3 linked regions of the Homo sapiens genome follow. The protein of the gene in region 1 purifies or fractionates together with the protein of each later gene. This does not show direct contact. Each region holds a gene or a part of one and is shown on either strand. Other genes may lie near its edges.

The links.
Region 2: the proteins of EMC8 (region 1) and ATP2A2 purify together in Homo sapiens (affinity purification with mass spectrometry; 2 studies listed by BioGRID and IntAct, with this or other methods). This does not show direct contact.
Region 3: the proteins of EMC8 (region 1) and KLHL22 purify together in Homo sapiens (co-immunoprecipitation; 2 studies listed by IntAct). This does not show direct contact.

What each region holds. Positions count from the first base shown.
Region 1 is NC_000016.10:85,782,545-85,789,544, forward strand, and holds part of EMC8 (ER membrane protein complex subunit 8), read right to left. Parts: intron 6,507-7,000; coding exon 6,430-6,506; intron 3,925-6,429; coding exon of another isoform or gene 3,827-3,924; exon of another isoform or gene 3,748-3,826; coding exon of another isoform or gene 3,713-3,747; exon of another isoform or gene 3,679-3,712; intron 1-3,678. UniProt on the Homo sapiens protein: Part of the endoplasmic reticulum membrane protein complex (EMC) that enables the energy-independent insertion into endoplasmic reticulum membranes of newly synthesized membrane proteins.
Region 2 is NC_000012.12:110,277,098-110,284,274, reverse strand, and holds the start of ATP2A2 (sarcoplasmic/endoplasmic reticulum calcium ATPase 2), read right to left. Parts: upstream 3,029-7,177; 5' UTR 2,486-3,028; coding exon 2,368-2,485; intron 1,672-2,367; coding exon 1,654-1,671; intron 1,563-1,653; coding exon 1,480-1,562; intron 1-1,479.
Region 3 is NC_000022.11:20,440,864-20,443,823, forward strand, and holds the end of KLHL22 (kelch-like protein 22), read right to left. Parts: intron 2,341-2,960; exon of another isoform or gene 1,961-2,340; intron 1,576-1,960; coding exon 1,210-1,575; 3' UTR 656-1,209; downstream 1-655. UniProt on the Homo sapiens protein: Substrate-specific adapter of a BCR (BTB-CUL3-RBX1) E3 ubiquitin ligase complex required for chromosome alignment and localization of PLK1 at kinetochores.

The sequences.
Region 1 (7,000 bases):
AAACAAAAGCATTGAACCGGTTCCCTCTAGCTGCTGTCCAGCTTCCCTCCTCCCTTCCATGACTGTTTCTTCAACTTCTTTAACAAGCCGCTAGTCTTGCTCCATGTCCTCACCACAGCTCTGTGCAATCTGCCATCTAACCCATTCCCTTGCAGAGCAGCACTCCGGAAGTCTCCTGACCACTGCCTGATGGCCCCAAGACTGCTACCCCCTCAAAAGCCTCCCAGCGGGAACCCACCACTCTCAGGCAGGCCAGTCCATTTCCAGCCTCTCCGACCTGAGGCCACCTTTCCCTCTGCTCTTCCCCACCCTGCAGGCCACAGGTCCTTTCTCTGCCCTCCTTTCCTGCATTCTCCCTGTCATTTATTTCCTTCAGTCTCTCACCTTAGGCAGGGGCTTCTAAAACTGCTTCCTAACCGGTCTCATAATTTCTACGGTCACTCGCTCGCTCTCTTTTTTAAAGAGACAGGGTCGGCTGGGTGCAGTGGCTCACGCCTGTAATCCCTGCACTTTCGGAGGCCGAGGCAGGTGGATCACCTGATGAGGTCAGGAGTTCGAGACCAGCCTGGCCAACATGGTGAAACCCTGTCTCTACTAAAAATATAAAAACTAGCTGGGTGTGGTGATGCACATCTGTAGACCCAGCTACTCCGGAGGCTGAGGCAGGAGAATCGCTTGAACCCGGGAGGCGGGGGTGGCAGTGAGCTGAGATCATGCCACTGTACTCCAGCCTGGGCAACAGTGAGACTCCACGTCAAAAAAAAAAGAGACAGAGTCTCGCTTCGTTGCCCAGGCTGGAGCATGGTGGCTATTCACAGGTGTGATCATGGCCACAAACTCCGGGTCTCAATCAATCCTTCCTGCTCAGCCTCACAAGCAGCTGGGACCACAGGCACGTGCTACGAAGCTCAGCTTAGGCTCTTCTTATCCGATGTAACCTGAAAATTCTCCTGAACTAAATTTTCCTAAAACAGAACTTCCATCACGTCCCCTGGTGCTCACAGCCCCACAGACTACTGCTCACCACTGCCTGCAAGATGAAGGCTGCTATTCTCAGGCTGGCAGAGGCAGGCCTTCGTTACGGTGAACTGAGCTACCGTGTGCAGCCACAGGGGCAATGCTGTGTCTTCAATGTCAGGAAATCTGCCTACATGTCATCTGCCTCACATGCCCGTCTTGTTTCACTCACACTGTCCCGTCTGGCCCTCCACACCAAGGCCTCCTTACTGAATTGCTTCCCCTCTTTCAGTGCCCAGAAGACATGCCACCCTCACCACAAAGCCCTGCTAAACCCTGGATGAGACCCCCTGCCCTGCTGGAGTTCTGAGGATTTATTTCTAAGAGGCTCTAACACAGAGTCCATGGCACGTGCTGCTTTCCTTCTGTGCATCCTGTCTGCCCTGCACAATCAAGGCTTTCAGCTTTTTGTGGCAGGGACCAAGCCATCCATCTTTCTTTTTTTTTCTTTTTTTGAGATGGAGTCTCACTCTGTCGCCTAGGCTGGAGTGCAGTGGCGCGATCTCGGCTCACTGCAAGCTCTGCCTCCCGGGTTCACGCCATTCTCCTGCCTCAGCCTCCCAAGTAGCTGGGACTACAGGCGCCCGCCACCACGCCCAGCTAATTTTTTGTATTTTTAGTAGAGATGGGGTTTCACCGTGTTAGCCAGGATGGTCTCGATCTCCTGACCTCGTGATCTGCCCGCGATGGCCTCCCAAAGTGCTGGGAATATAGGCGTGAGCCACCGCGCCTGGCCCCATCTTTCTTTTAACAGCCATAAAAATACATGCATTATTGTGAGTTATTTAACAAAGCACACTATATACAATTACAATCCTTCCCTTGTGATTAGGCTAAAAAAAATTAATAATGTTTTTAAAAAACAAATTATTTTATATGATTATTGTATTTTCGTTTTCAAAATTGACAAAGTGATGTACTGATTATAAATCTGCAGTATTAAGAAAAATATGACTTAAAAATGTGACTGTGTTAAGAAAAATATGACTTAAGAGGGAAGGGGAGGTTTTCAGGTAGAAGCCAATCGTACTGAAGAAAGCAGTGCGATGGTGGCTCCTAGCGCAGAGGGAAGGCAGTGCTTCACTGCACTGACCAGGACTCGGTGGGCGCCAGGTCCCCACAGCACTAACGGCAAGTGGTGAAGAGTGGGTACAGAGCCCTCAGGAGGCCTGCCCATGTACCCACCTCTGCCTGCTCCTGCATTTGCTGAGGAACTTGGAAAGCAAAAGGCAGGGCCGCTTGCCATGAAGAGCTTGCAAAGCCCTTACCCTCCTACTTAACACTGATCATGCTGGTTGTTGATTTTTATTGGGGAGAGGGTAAGGAAACACTCATTAAAAAGAAAAACTACCATTGCAGATGCTCAAGAACTCTTAACATCTGTCTTTCTATTCACTGATTTTTGAGATGGGGTCTTGCTCTGTTGCCCAGGCTGGAGTACAGTGGCGAGATCATGGCTCACTGCAGCCCCAACTGCCCAGGCTCAAGTGATCTCCCACCCCAGCCTCCCTTGTAGCTGGGACCACAGGCGTAGGCCACCATGTCCAGCTAATTTTTGTATTTTTTTGTAGAGATGAGGTCTTGCTATGTTGCCCAGACTGGTCTTGAACACCTGGCTCAAGAAATCCTCCTGCCTTGGCCTCTGAAAGTGCTGGGATTACAGGTGTGATCCAACATGGCTGGCCTAAAATTTATTATTTTAAAAGAAGTCTAAAAATTTGTAGTTGGCCGGGTGTGGTGGCTCATGCCTGTAATCCCAGCACTTTGGGAGGTTAAGGTGGGTGGATCACTTGAGGTCAGCAGTTCGAGACCAGCCTGGCCAACACGGTGAAACCCCGTCTCTACTAAAAATACAAAAATTAGCCAGGTGTGGTGGCAGGTGCCTGTAATTCCAGCTACTCAGGAGCCTGAGACAGCAGAATACTTTGAACCCAGGAGGTGGAGGTTGCATTGAGGCGAGATCGTGCCACTGCACTCCAGCCTGGGTGACAGAGTGAGACTCTGTCTGCTCTGCCACCGCCCCGCCAAAAAAAAAATGTGTAGTTAATGAACTGTCAAAGTATTTGAAACAGCTGCCAACTTTGCATTTCTCTGTCTTAGGCACTGAATCTCCAATACTGATCCACTTGATCCTGAATGAAGACTGCCACGCTGTGGTTCCTGCTAGTCAGGAACTCCTTGTTCCTAGGAAGAGCCAGCTGCCAACTGAAACTGCAGGCACCCTGAAGGCAGACCACTCTGCTCACCCTCAACAGCACCATGTCGGGCCAGCGTGTAGGTGCCATCTTACAATGTGTATCTAAAAGCTTCCTCCTGAGTGTCTGCCTCAGGCCAGGGCTCTCTGCCGGGCACCGAAACCTACTCATATCAAATGCTAACTATGAAGCAAAACACTGGCCAACAATGAATCATATAATAAAACTTGATGGAATGACCTAAAGTTTAGGAAATTCATAAAAGTTATAAACACTACGTTAGAACAGTAATAGAAAAAGTCATCACAGCACTAGTAACAGCACCAGCCACTACTGTAAACCAAGCACAAGGACAAACACACTGCGCAATTTCATTCTGTCCTCATGACTACTCTCTGAGGCATGAGCTCAGCTCCATTTTACAGACAGGGCCACAGAGGCCCAAGGAGGTTAATCAGTAAGTCACCTAGAATTTGAATCCAGGTCTACTTGGCTCCAAATCATGCTGCAAGACACTGTGAATGAGGCAATATTTCTAGAATAAGAAGAGCAAATTTTCAGCTAGGTCTGGCTGAAGAGAGGGGAAGGTTTTCCAGGCAGAAGCAAAACCATACTTAAGTCAGAAGTTGGCATGATCCTAGCTCCTGAGCTCCCAAGCTGTGTGGCCTCTGAGAAGCCACCTTCTCCGGCTGGTTTCTTCACTTGTGCATTGCTGTGAGGATGAAATAAAATGACCCCGATAGAGCCCAGGGATAGCACGGCATTACCTACCTGAGGTGTCCTCCTCAAACAACTGGGCACAGCGGGGGAGGGGGAGGTGGATTCCCTATTCCAGGGTGGCAGACTCCTAGCTAAGGTTTATCCTCTCTACACATCTGACAAATGGCTGCTCCGGATGCATTTAAAAGTCAGTATTAATGAAGGACTGCAAAACCTCCTGGAGGACGCAGAAGGACGTGGACTAGGTGAGGATAGGGAGGACATTCTAGAAGGAAGGTATGGAGAGCAGGAAAACTGTGTCCGAGTAGGATAATTCCAGGCTGGGCTGTAACGAGGTCAGCACAGAGGTAAGAACATGAGAGCTGTGAGCCAGATGAGGCATGCGCAGAGAGGAGCATAGGAGAGCCTGCGCAGGTCCATGTGGGGCGACCACATCAGGCATGGATTTGCAGGTGGGGGATTAAGGAAAGGGAGGCCCCTGCCCTCATCTGACAACCTGGTGCCATTCCCACTTGCCCAGTCTCCTCTCCCTTCTGCAGGGACAGCCACGGCAGACACTGCTTGGTCCAGGAACACCTTCCTGCCAAGGGTGCTCCCCACTGCTTGCAAGGTGAAGTTCAAAATGCTTCTGAGCACAGAGGAGCCCTCAGCTGTGGCCCAACCTACCTGTGCAGCCTCACTTCCTAGCATCTCCCTCCATGTGGGCACGGCCCCAGCCCTTGCCACGTCCTCACCTGTGTCTGCTGTCCCCCCAACCAGGAATGCTGACCTCCTGGTCTCCACGTCTGCACTTGACAAGGCCCTGCTCACTCTCGAGGGCCTGGTTTACAGGACACCATGCCCTGGACTTCTGGGATCATCCTACCAGGTCTAAGTCTCCCGGCCCCTGCCACCAAGCCCCCTGCAGGGGCCGCTGTCCTGCACCACAGCCTGTGTTTGCACTGTCCTTCATGTTCAACTCAGCCACGTGAGGGCAAGGGCCAGAGGGCTGCGCTTTCCTCAGCCCACGCCTAGTCTTTCATGTAACAAAGACTAAGATGGATGTGGCCCCGTGGGTAGGCTCTCGCTCAGTGAAGGCACTGAGAGGGGAGGCACTGATTCATCAACAAAGGGAGGCAGGCGATATCAAACAGAGGACATCCCAGTGAGAGTCAGAAGAGATGCGCTGAAGGCGGAGAGGCCAGTGCTGCTCGTGGGCTCAGAGGAAGCAGCAGAAGAGCCAATGTGCATGGGGATTCCACGCACTCCCAACCGCCTTGGCAGAGGCTTCAGCGGACTGACTTTGAGTGCAGCATCTCCTAGGACATCTGCCTCCCTCAGGATCCTGTGCCTGGACCCAGCCCTCCTAGGGTAAGATAATTATGTTTCTAAATTTGGGTTTCTTTTAGGATACCATGTTTCTCATCAGAAACACTGGTGCCTCATCAGTGATAGCAATGCTGTCACCAGCTTACTGTATTATTTCCAAAGTGCTTGAGCTCACCTTCTCATCTGTGCTGAGCAAGTGGACCCAACGGCAGGGCCCTTCACTGCACCCCCATCTCCCTGGACACTGGAGGGTCGGCTCTATCTGACAACATGAGGAAGCCACGTCAGGGCAGCCTGACGCATGCCCGTTATATACGGCGTGGACTTTCCAGCTGCCCATCTGGCTTCTGGCTCGGTTCAGCCAAAGGAAAATGGAAGGGGGACATCATGTACTGACTGCTCTGGGCCACCTCTCCCCTAATGGGAGGCCACGTCAGGCTGGCTGTGGCCACCTGCCCAAGGGCACTGCTTTTCTCAAGGTGGACTTGTTTACCCAGCTCCTTCCTCCCCACCCTTTGGGCTGTTGTCGCCAGCCTTGTTTACAGCACGACCCCCTGTGCGTTATCTACGGCCCAGGCCTTGTCAACAGCCTGCTTATTAAGCCCTCCTCAGATTATCACCACCTGAGTGTGTCATCTGTTTTTCTGTTGGGACCAAGATGACGCAGACATATAGAAAAATTCTCAGCTTTGTTATTAGCGAGAGCCCCAGTTGGGGAAGGATCTGGATAAAGGAAAAGAAAGAAGGAGCCAGTATAAAGGGGGCAGCAAATACCACATTTTCATCAGAGTACTGACCCCAAACCTACAGGCTGGTCTATTTACCGGCAAATAGAGCAACATTCCTTCCCAGTGCTCTGCCCAACACCACCCCTAGTCTGGGAAGGGGAAGCAAGGCAGAGCTGAGCAGGGACAGAAGTCGGAAGCCAACTGTCGCTTTCATTGTATGAATTCCCTTCATGCAAAATAAAGAAGACACAAAACAGAATTCCAAAGTTAATAGAAATGTTTGGAATTTCTGTTGTTTGGAATTATCCACACCACAGTTCGCCTCAAATACTACAAATAAGCACAGAGGGAAGGGGTGTAGGTCTCACAGGTTTCGTATCTGGCCGAAAAGCACACGAGAGACGGGGTCTGCCCAACACGTGCTCACTTCCTCGCCCACAGAGGGTTCTGCATCCACGTACCTGGCATCCTTTACTCGCTCATTAGCTTGATAATAACCAGCAATCACGTAGCTATGATCTTTGCACCATGAATCAATCTGAAAGAGGAACAAAAATTGGGAAAAGATGAATGACTCTCCCTTAAATATCAAGTCGTAAAAACCACAGATCTCACTGCCACATGCTGGGACAAGACATGACAGAATCTTAATCCTCATACCCTACACCCCAGAAGAAAGGGTAGGACTCAGGAAAAAATGGTCAGGAAGGGCAGGACTTTGAACATAAGGAATGACTATCTTCCTCAGTCCCAGCGAGAAGACCCTTTGTCTACAGGTACTGGATTGGTACAGTGCTGCAGAGAGTCAGAGGGAAGATGACCTTCACCTACCTTCTCTTATACTATAAAGAACTGGGGCTTTAGAAATGCTTAAAATTATTTAAATCATTATCCTTCATAGTTAAGGAAACAAAGCTTAGAGAGGTTCTAAGTTTGCACAACCAGATAGAAACAGAGCCAGAAGGGAATCTCAGTCTCTTTCAAAACAAGTCTTTTAGGCCAGGCACAGTGGCTCACACCTGTAATCCCAGC
Region 2 (7,177 bases), on another chromosome or scaffold:
ATTTTGCCCCATGACAATGTATTGATAAACTATAGTTAATCGGGTCTACTCATTTCCCTTAATTGGTAAAACAGCAGCCATTTTCTGGGGGAAAATTTTTTAATCAATCAAGAAGAAACATTTTATCAGAGGTACATTGTGACTGACTCAGAATGCTGAATGGTTTGCTATGTAAGTCCCCATTTTAATCAATGAAAACCACAGAAAAGGTTCTTGGGGACTGAATTATTAATGGCTACACAATACTTGGCTAATATGGCATAATAAAGTATCATAGCAGGATTTATGTAAAAATTATTCCACAAATTTATTTACTGCTGCCACTATCTACTTAAAAGATGGGTATAAATTTAATCTTTTCCTCATCTGAACTAAATAAATGCCCACTGCTTTGTTTATTTCGTTCTCAAAATAGCCCTCTATGGTATGGTTCTCACAAAGACTGAGGCTGATCCCTGGGACCTGCATACATATATGTACAAGAACTGAAACCGTGAAGTTTTGTCAATTTTGTTTTAACTAGAAAGAAGTACTGCACTGGGTGAATTTCACTTATCGTGGTTTTTGTAAGAATAACGTAATTCAAGAATAAAAGGCATCTCATGCTATTAGAATTAGGAACATCTGTGTCCTATTCCTGACCATTTTTAGGAAAACTAGCAAGCAATCTACTGCCCAAGAAAAAAAATGCAACAAAAAATTAATACCGAACATTTAAAAAAAAGTTAAAAACCTAGAAATATACTTGCCACCCCAACACCCTTTTTCTGCTGTAGTTCTTTGCATTTCACTAGTTTCTTAGCAACCATATAGCACTCAAGTGGGTAAGCACACACAGAACAAGAAAAAACACCATGCTGGTTTTTTTCCTTTAAGATCTAGAACCAACTGTACTAAACCTTGTTCTTTCAACCTAAGAATCACTTAAGACAGGGGTCCAATTTAGATAAATATACCACCCTAAAGGTCAGTGACCAAATTTGGTCAACAAGGGTGCCATCACAGCCGTCATCATTCTTGTCACCGTCAGGAACAACTGTCACCTTGCCATTACCAGGAAGGGAAAGCAACTGGAATATTCCTTTTGTAAGTTCTATTTACAGACTACAAAGAGTCCAACATCATCTTAGTATGATCTTACAACACGATAACAATGGAAGAACCCAAAACATTAAAGGCTTCCCAGAAAAGAACTTTTTGATATTAAAAGCTGATAAACCACAAGAATTTCTAAGACCATGCCACACTCTGGGACAACTCCTAACCACACTGTAAATGTCAGGCATCTATTTTCTGAATACCAATGGCTTCAAGTGTTTTGTTTTGTAATTTTAAAATGCCCAGATTGTTTTTAAACATAGAGACACAGCTTGCAACTCCAAATATGTTTTCACCCAATGGACATCATTTGTTTTCTGATTTATCTATGGAATACTTTCAGCTTTTGGGGGGAAAGAAAATAAATTTTTTTATACTTACAAAAGATATACATGCTGCCAGTAATAAAATCCTAACTAGCAAGTCTTCAAACTGCTCAATCACAAGTTCCAGCAAGGTTTTTCCTGTAAGAAACAAACACATGTGTTTTAACTGTCATCTTACCATCAGCACACCAACAGAGGAAAAAAAACAGAAACAGCATGTTAAGATTACCTTCTTCAGCCGGTAACTCTGTAGAATGTAGAAATTCGTCAAGCAATGTGTCAAGAGGGAGGTTAAAAAAAAAAAGAGAGAGACATTTTAGCACTTCGTTTTTCTAAAAAGAACTGCTACAATTCTAAGCATCAATATCTTTAAAACACAGACCTAGCTATAAGAATATCCGATTTTTTTAGCAGAGGGCATACCACGAAGATATCTCAAGGAAGCATGCACTCTTTGTAATCAATGGCCTGAGGTCTAGCCCTAAGCGTGAAATCACTTCGGGCTCCTGAACCTAGGAGTGGTTTCAGCGATGTCATCACTTCTGCCAGATGTGTAACTTTGGGTAGGACAAGAACGGTCAGAGGCCTTCCAACGACCTCGACTCCTCATAAATCGGCAGGGGACGAGAAAACGTCTTGCCGGGCTCAACCTAGCTGCAGAAGCCACGTCCCTCCCTCCACCGGGGCCGGCTGCTGCTGGAGAGAAGCCTCCGAGCCTTGCGCGCCGAAAAGGTCGAGGGCCCGAGAAGCGAAGAGGTCCAGGGAAGGCGAGGCGAGGACCGCAGCCCCTTTCTCTCCCGCGGGGCCGGCGCGCTGGCCCGACCCTCCGCCCGCAGCTGTCGGCGGGCGCGGAGCCGAAGCCCACGAGGTGGAGCCCGGTCAGCCATCTTCCCTGGCTCTCCCGGCCGCGCCGGGCCCCTGCAGCGGAGCGCCCTGCACCTACCGTTGGAGCCCCATCTCTCCTTAAGCTTCTTGACCTGTTCCAGGCTCAGCCCCGTACTCTCGTTGACGCCGAAGTGGCCCAGCACCTCCTCCACCGTCTTGGTGTGCGCGTTCTCCATGGCTTCGGGGGCCCGGCCGGCCTCGCCTCCCGTCCCCGCGGCCTCCTCGCCTCCGCCTCGCACTCCGGCCGCGGGCTCGTGCCACCCCGGGAGCCCAGGCGCGGACGGGCTCTCCCCTCCTCCTCTTGCGGCCGCTTCCGCCTCGCCGGGCGCTGAATCACCCCGCGCCCCCTCCCCCAGACAACCGCCCCTCGCGCGGCCCCGAGCTCCGCAGGGCGGGTTGGGGGCTCCTGACCCACCCTCCCTCCCCTCGCCAGAAGGGAGGGCCTCCCTCGCCCTCAGCCGCCCGCCGGGAGGGCAGGCCGCGGCCCCCGAGCCCCCTCCCCGCTCTCTTGAGGCGATCAGAGGCCCCGCCCGGGCCGGAGGAGGGGGCGCCCGGCAGACCACTGAGGGCGGAACGCGGCGAGGGAGGCGAGCCGGCGGGGCGGTGCGCGGCGCGCTCGCCCGGGTCCCTCAGCGCCGCACGCCCGACAGCGGCGGAGGAAACTGCGGCGAAGGAAAAGGAGGTGGCGTCGGGGACGGCTCCGCGGCGGCTGCTCTAATAGCATTTATCGGCCGCTGCCTCCCCTTTCGCCGCCGCCGCGGCATGTGGACGCCGCTCATTGGCCGAGAGCGCCCAGCGCGGCGCGGGCGGCGCGGCCCCGCCCCCTCCTCCCGGCTCCCTCCTCCCGCGCGCCTGGCGCCCACGCTGCCGCGCAGGCCCCGCCCCCTCCCGCGCGCCGCCCCTAGGAACCCGGATCGAGGCCGCGCGCGCCGCGGTCGCGGGGCTGGCGGAGGGGAAGCTGGGTACCCTCTTCTGTGCCTGCGGTTCTCTGACCCACCCACCTGCAGACGCAGGGTGGGGCGCTCACAGTGGGCACGCTGCTCTGGGGCCGGTGGGCGGATGGTTGGAAGGCGAGGCCGAGGAGCTGGGAGCGCGGTCCACGCGGGGCGTCTCGAGGCGCCCTCGGGCTGATGTCCTTGGCTCGCCTCCTCGCCCTCGGTCGCCCGGGCTGCGCTCTGCATCCTAATCTGGCTCCTTCAGAGCCCCCCTCAGAAACCAAGGGGAGGAATTCCGCAGTTCACTTCCCACACAACCCAAATCCTTCATCTGTCGCCTCGGGAACACCGCATCCTACACCCCCTGCCGCCAGCTCCTTCGCACGCCAGCCCCGATTCTTCCCCAGCGGGTTCTGGGCCCTGACGAGGGAACCCCCCTCGCGGGGGGGAGGGAGAAGAGTTGATTTTATTATTAATAGCTGACGCAGCGCTTGATAGGTGTCTGCAGGGCAGTCACAGTTCACGCCGCTGGAGCTGCCACACAGCAGCTAGACTTGGGCTAGGAGGTGCTTCGCTGTGGCTTTCAGATGAAGGCCATTTCATAGACTCACTTCCCTCGACAGGAGAAAAGGGGACTTGAATCCAAAGCTGCTCTTAAACCACAGATGATTTGCTCTGCTCGGGAGGACAAAGCGCAGGTCACAGCAAGATAAAGGGAATTTTGCCAATATAAAGAAGCTACATTACTTAACAAGGGGATGGGAAATTGCATGGAATTCATGAACAAAACATGAACATATTCTCTTCACAAAGAAGAGCAGCTTTCTTCACGGAGTAGGTTGCAGAATGAAGCAATTAGTCCACTTTTGTGTTTAACAATAACGCACCATCCGCATGAGCAAAAGCAGAGCAGAAAAATCACCTCAGTTGTCTCAAGTGGCTGGGCTTCAGGACTTAAGATAAATTCCTTCAGCAGATGCAAATTACAGTGCATCACCAGCTGAAAAAATCAGGCACGTCATGTCATTTAATTATTTCCAAGGAGTGGACGTTGGCATGTAGTTTTGATTGATACTTGGAAAAGAACCAACAAAACCCTACACGAAACAAACAAACAAAAAATTATACTATATGGCAACGCACTGAGAGAAGCCAGGTGGAAACTGGTTAGGTCACAGGATCAGAGCCGCTTCAAGAGGGGCACGTGAGTGCACGGTGGGAGTGTGGTCATGGAGGGCTGGCTGTTGTTGCCCTCTGAGACCAGCTCTGCACCATTTCGTACCAATTCTTCTCCCTTACCTCCTCTGTCTCTTTCAGGACCGATAGAAGCACTGCAGGCAGGAGAAGGATGGTTTACCTTTCTCAGCCTGGAAATTAGCTTAGGCATTTGATGTTGAATATTCTGTGCCACTGTCACTGCTTGGGGTTGTAAGCACCTCTGGTGCAATTATGAGCTTCTGGAGGAGTTCCTGACCTCAGCCTTTGTATGGAATGCTCTTCCCACAGATCTTCTTCACTTGTGTCGTTCTCTTTCCATTCAGATCGCAGCTTACATGTCCCCTCCTCAGAGATGTCTTTGCTGTCTAAAGTGGCTACCCAGCCACAGTGGCTCACGTCTGTAATCCCAGCATTTTGGGAGGCTGAGGCAGGAGGATCCCTTGAGCCCAGGAGTTTGAGACCAGCCTGGGCAATATAGCGAGACTCCATCTCTACTAAAAAAAAAAAAGAAAAAAATTAGCTGGGCGTGGTGGCCTGAACCTTTAGTCCCAGCTACTCAGGAGGCTAAAGAGAGAGGATCGCTTGAACCCAGGAGGTCAAGACTGCAGTGATCTGTGATCACGCCACTGCACTCCAGCCTGAGCAACAACAGAGTGAGACCTTGTCTCAAAAAAAAAATTAAATAATAAATAAATTAAAAAGTGGCTACTCTCGGCAATTCACCTTCCATCACATTTTTCAGTTTTCTTTTCTTCTTTTTTTTCCTTTGAGACAGAGTCTCTCTCTGTCACCCAGGCTGGAGGACAGCAGCACAATCCCAGCTCACCACAACCTCGGCCTCCTGGGTTCAAGCAGTTCTTGTGCCTCCGCCTCCCAAGTAGCTGGGACTACAGGTGCACGCCACCATGCCTGCCTCATTTTTGTATTTTTAGTAGAGATGGGGTTTCACCATGTTGGCCAGGCTGGCTTCGAACTGACCTCAGGTAATCTGCCTGCCTCGGCCTCCCAAAGTGCTGGGATTACAGGCATGAGCCACCGTGCCCGGTCAGTTTTCTTCACAGTGCTTACTTGTGATGTTGTATTTTGGTTTAGCTGTTAACTGCTTGTCTCCTAGTGTCTCATGGAGCTCTAGGACAGAAGCTCCATAAGAACAGGGCCTGTCCATCTTGTCCATCCTCAGTACAAAGAACAGTCCCTAGTCTATGCTCCTCATTTATTAAATGCCTGCTGTTTGAATGAATGAATTAGTCCCACCATCCCTAGCCCATAAGTGACTTGCAAAGGGCCTCCCCCATAGGAAGGCCTCAGCAAATTTTCAGTGAACTCAAGTTCATTGATTTCCAATTTGTGAAATAAACTAGAGGGCCTCTCTGAACTACCTGCCTCATGAGAATGACTGTGAAGTGTAGTCAGTTTAAAACAAACAGACAAAAACAAAGCTAGACAGCATTACAGGTTTCTCAGAAAGAAGGAAGGTTCAAGTTCACATTGGTACTGTTACCACGTTGCCATTGCCCTCCTAGACTGTTCTCTGCAAGCTTTCTATTTACTGGAGGCTGGAATACTCTCTTAAGCTGAAACAGTGTGATTTTAAGCCCAGAATTGGCCCCCTTAGACATCATCATAACAATTATGCTCTTGGTTCCTCAACCTGCTGGTGTCTCTGAAAGCTGTTGTTGATGGGTTGCCAAAATTTATCAGAAACGCAGTCTCCCAAAGGCAGAAATATCTAGTTTCTCTCATGTAGAAATAAACTTGTGCTTAATTTATTTTATGCATCGTGTTGTACTTGCTTCTTGTTAAGAAGGGTTTTTAAAAGTAAGAATAGGTTTTAGAAATACTCTATTTTTCAGCAAGGATTGCAGGTACATTCAATCAATTGAGGACAGGGAGAGAAAACAGAAACTGTGATTCAGAAAGATGGATGATTTGATTAAAGAACTTCAAAGGCATTAATAAAGGAGGACATTAGCTGCTAAAAGGCAAGCTGGTTTAAAAAGCAAGTTAGACAGAAATGGACAGTGGAAATAAGTGACTTGTAAAAGAGGCCCCAGCCAACTTCCCAATGCTCTACAGCTCCTTGTAAAGCAGTGGAGATTGTAAAAGGCAGTCCATTCTGTATTTGGACAGCTCTAATCATTAAAGCAGTCTCATTCTAGGCTGGATCCACCTCCCATTGGCTAACTTCATCTATACATTGGATCTTGTTTAGCTCTCTGGAACCATTCCAAATGAATTTCATCCCTCTTTGGTGTGAGATCCCTTTGAGTATTTCAAGCTATCTACTGTGTTAAAAAGTCTCTTCTCAGCCGGGCACGGCGGCTCACGCCTGTAATCCCAGCACTTTGGGAGGACAAGGCGGGCAGATCACAAGGTCAGGAGTTCGAGACCAGCCTGGCCAACATGGTGAAACCCCATCTCTACTAAAAAAAAAAAATACAAAAATTAGCCAGGCATGGTGGCATGCACCTGTAATCCCAGCTACTCTGGAGGCTGAGGCGGAAGAATTGCTTGAACCCGGGAGGCAGGGGTTGCAGTGAGCCGAGATTGTGCCATTGCACTCTGGCCTGGGTGACAAAGCAAGACTCCATCTAGGGAAAAAAAAAAGTCTCTTCCCGGCTTCTTCCTAGATCATGAGTTTGTAATCCCTCAGCAACTTTGTCATCCAGTCCTAGAGGTACCCAGTACTGAATACAAAAGTCTGGGCATGGGGCC
Region 3 (2,960 bases), on another chromosome or scaffold:
TTCGTGTGGTGCAGCCCTGCAGTGAGGCTGGTGTGGGCTCACAGCCCATCCATGCAGGGTGCAGGCTAAGCCTGGCAGTCTCAAGAGGGCAAGAAAAGCATGGGGACAGGTGAACAGGGGAGGGTCCCAGCTGCTGTGCCAGTGTGGTCCTTGAGACTGGGTGCCTAAGGGTTACCTGGCAAACCTGTAGCACATGCAGCTCCCCTCCCCAGCACACTCAGCTTCAGGAGGTTGGGAGGAGCCGGGCACAGGCCAGAGGGGCCCCCCCCACCGACCCCCTGATGCTGCCCCGCTCCCAGGTGCTGAAGCTCTGGTTCCCTGACCCTCAGGCTGAGAGACTCCTAACGAGCTGGGCTGAAACTCTGCGTGCTGCCCTGGTTGGGAGACAAGTTCCACACCAGAGAAGACACTCAAGTGGCTGCACAACCACCTGTCACCAGACCAGGGCGAGTTCCAGCTTTCCCACTGAGTGCCCTGTTAGCTTGTGGAGTTTACTGTGCTTCCCTCTCAGGCAGGGTCTTCCCAGTGCCACTTGGCTTCTGGCCTGGGCTTCCACAGCCTCTCCCAGATGGCAGCTCTGACCCCAGAAGCCACGCTTCCTGGGGACGCAGCTTGGGTGCACTGTGGAAAGGAACTGAGGCTGTGGCTACAGAAAAACAGTTAACACCTTCTGTAAGATGCTTTATTTCATTGACCAACAACATGGGGTCTGAAAACCCAGCGGGAGGGGTCTTTTTATCACAGAGCCAGTCCCAGGCGAGCTGATGCATCTCTGCTCCTCTGCCCCTCAGGAGCTCTCATCCTCCAACCCCAGCTGCCCCCACAGCCCCACCCCATTCACAGAAAGAGGGCTACCACGTGCCTCAGCCCCCCTGCCCAGGCTGCCAGCTCCCAGGTCCTTTTGGAGAAGGACTGATCTAGGCAGGGAGGAGAGAAGGCCAACCCCTCCAGGGCTCACTGAGGAAGGCCAAAGCCTTTCAGAAGCAGTTCCTGCAGTGACGTAATCCACAGCCTGGGATCTGCATGGCCCTGAGATGCCTGCGGCAGGCTGGCCAAGGGGCTGGTGTGAAGAAAGAGGGCAGGGCCCATAAGCTGTGGCCAACAGGGGCAGGGGCCCTGCCTGGAGTAAAGTGCTCTGGCCTAGGCTGCGTGGGTTTCACTGCCCTGCAGCCCCAGCCTCCCTTCCCTCTGATGCCAGGCACAGGGAGCCTAGTCCTCACTGGAGTTGTCAAACTCCTCCCAGTCAGACACACTCATCACCTCAGAGGCAAAGTCCGGGTCGGCCTGGCTGCGGTCAGGGGTCCCGCGGGGCGGCTCAAGGAGCAGGGAGCGGGGCAGGGTGAGCACACAGGCCGCCAGGCCTGAGATGGAGTTGTCCAGCTGGGGCCCTTCCTCCCAGCAGTCCTTCTCCACATCGTAAATGTGCACGTAGCCTGTGCGGCTGCCGCGGTTGTGTGAGCGGCCACCTAACACATAGATCCTGTTGTCCAGCACAGCAATGCCAGGCTCACCGTGCCCAGCAGGGAGTGGGCAGACAGATGACCACTGTCCAGACGTGCAGCTGTAGCAGGCCACCTGCAAAGCCAAGGCTAGAATAAAGCCCAGCACCCACTGGGACGAGGCTGCCAGCTCCCCCACAAGCCCACTGACCAAGGTGGCAACAGTTACCCACCATTCTGACAGGTCAGGCCCCCTGGAAGGATGGCACAGGGCCAGTGTTGAAACATCCTGTCCATGGGCCAGGCTGCTGCTTTCTCACCCAGGGATGGCCGAGTCTGCAGGAGGCTGTCTTTTGGGCCCTCCCCTAGAATGATCCTATTCTCTCTGGCTTTGCTCCAGCCCAGCCCTTCCTCTAGGCCACCCGGCCCTAAGCCAGTCTCTGCCCCCGAGTGTGTGGCTGTGCCCCCATCAGCATGTGGTCATTCCCCATGTCTGAGGGCACTGCTTCTCTCCCCTCCAGGAAACGAAGCTGCCTGAGAGACATGGACTCCACTGAAATGTCTTCAACCTCCTTCTGCAGCACTCAACACAGGCAGTAGGACAGGGGGAGGAGACAGAAAGTGGAAGTAATTCCTTGCGGAGTAGTCAACATCAATATTCTCTTGTCTTCAAAATTGTCCAAACAGTAAACAAAGACATGGAAAAATGTTCAACCTACTAGTAATTCAAGAAACGCAAAATCAAAACATCAGAGACAAATTTTTCAACTAGCAACCACTGCAGAGAAGGAAAATCACAAAACCCAATGCTGTTGAGGGTGTGGTAAAGCCATACTACTATGTATCTGTCTGACATGCCAGAAAAGGAATTTGGCAATAAGTATTAAGAGCCATAAAAATCTTACCTTCTTGACTGATTAGCCGTTTTTGGTTCTCTAGCTATGGTGGGCAGAATAGTGGCCCCCAAAGATGTCTAGTTCCTAATCTCCAGAATATGCTACCTTAAGCAGCCAAAGGGGCTTTGCAGATAGGATCAAGGGTACAAGAATACAAAAAAAAAAAGGATTAAGGGTGCAGACCCTGAGATGGGGCAGTTTTCCTGGATTTTCCAGGTGATCCATCCAATTGCATGAGCCCTTAAAAGTGGAAGGGGAGAGGCCGGGCGTGGTGGCTCACGCCTGTAATCCCAGCACTTTGGGAGGCCAAGGCGGGCTGATCACAAGGTCAAGAGATCAAGACCATCCTGGCCAACATGGTGAAACCTCGTCTCTACTAAAAATACAAAAATCAGCTGGGCATGGTGGCACATGCCTGTAACCCCAGCTACTCGGGAGGCTGAGGCAGGAGAATCACTTGAACCCAGGAGGCAAAGGGTGCAGTGAGCCAAGAGCACCACTGCACTCCAGCCTGGCGACAGAGCGAGACTCTGTCTCAAACAAACAAACAAAAAAAGTGGAAGGGGAGGCCGGGGGTGGTGGCTCACGCCTGTAATCCTAGCACTTTGGGAGGCTGAGGTGCGTG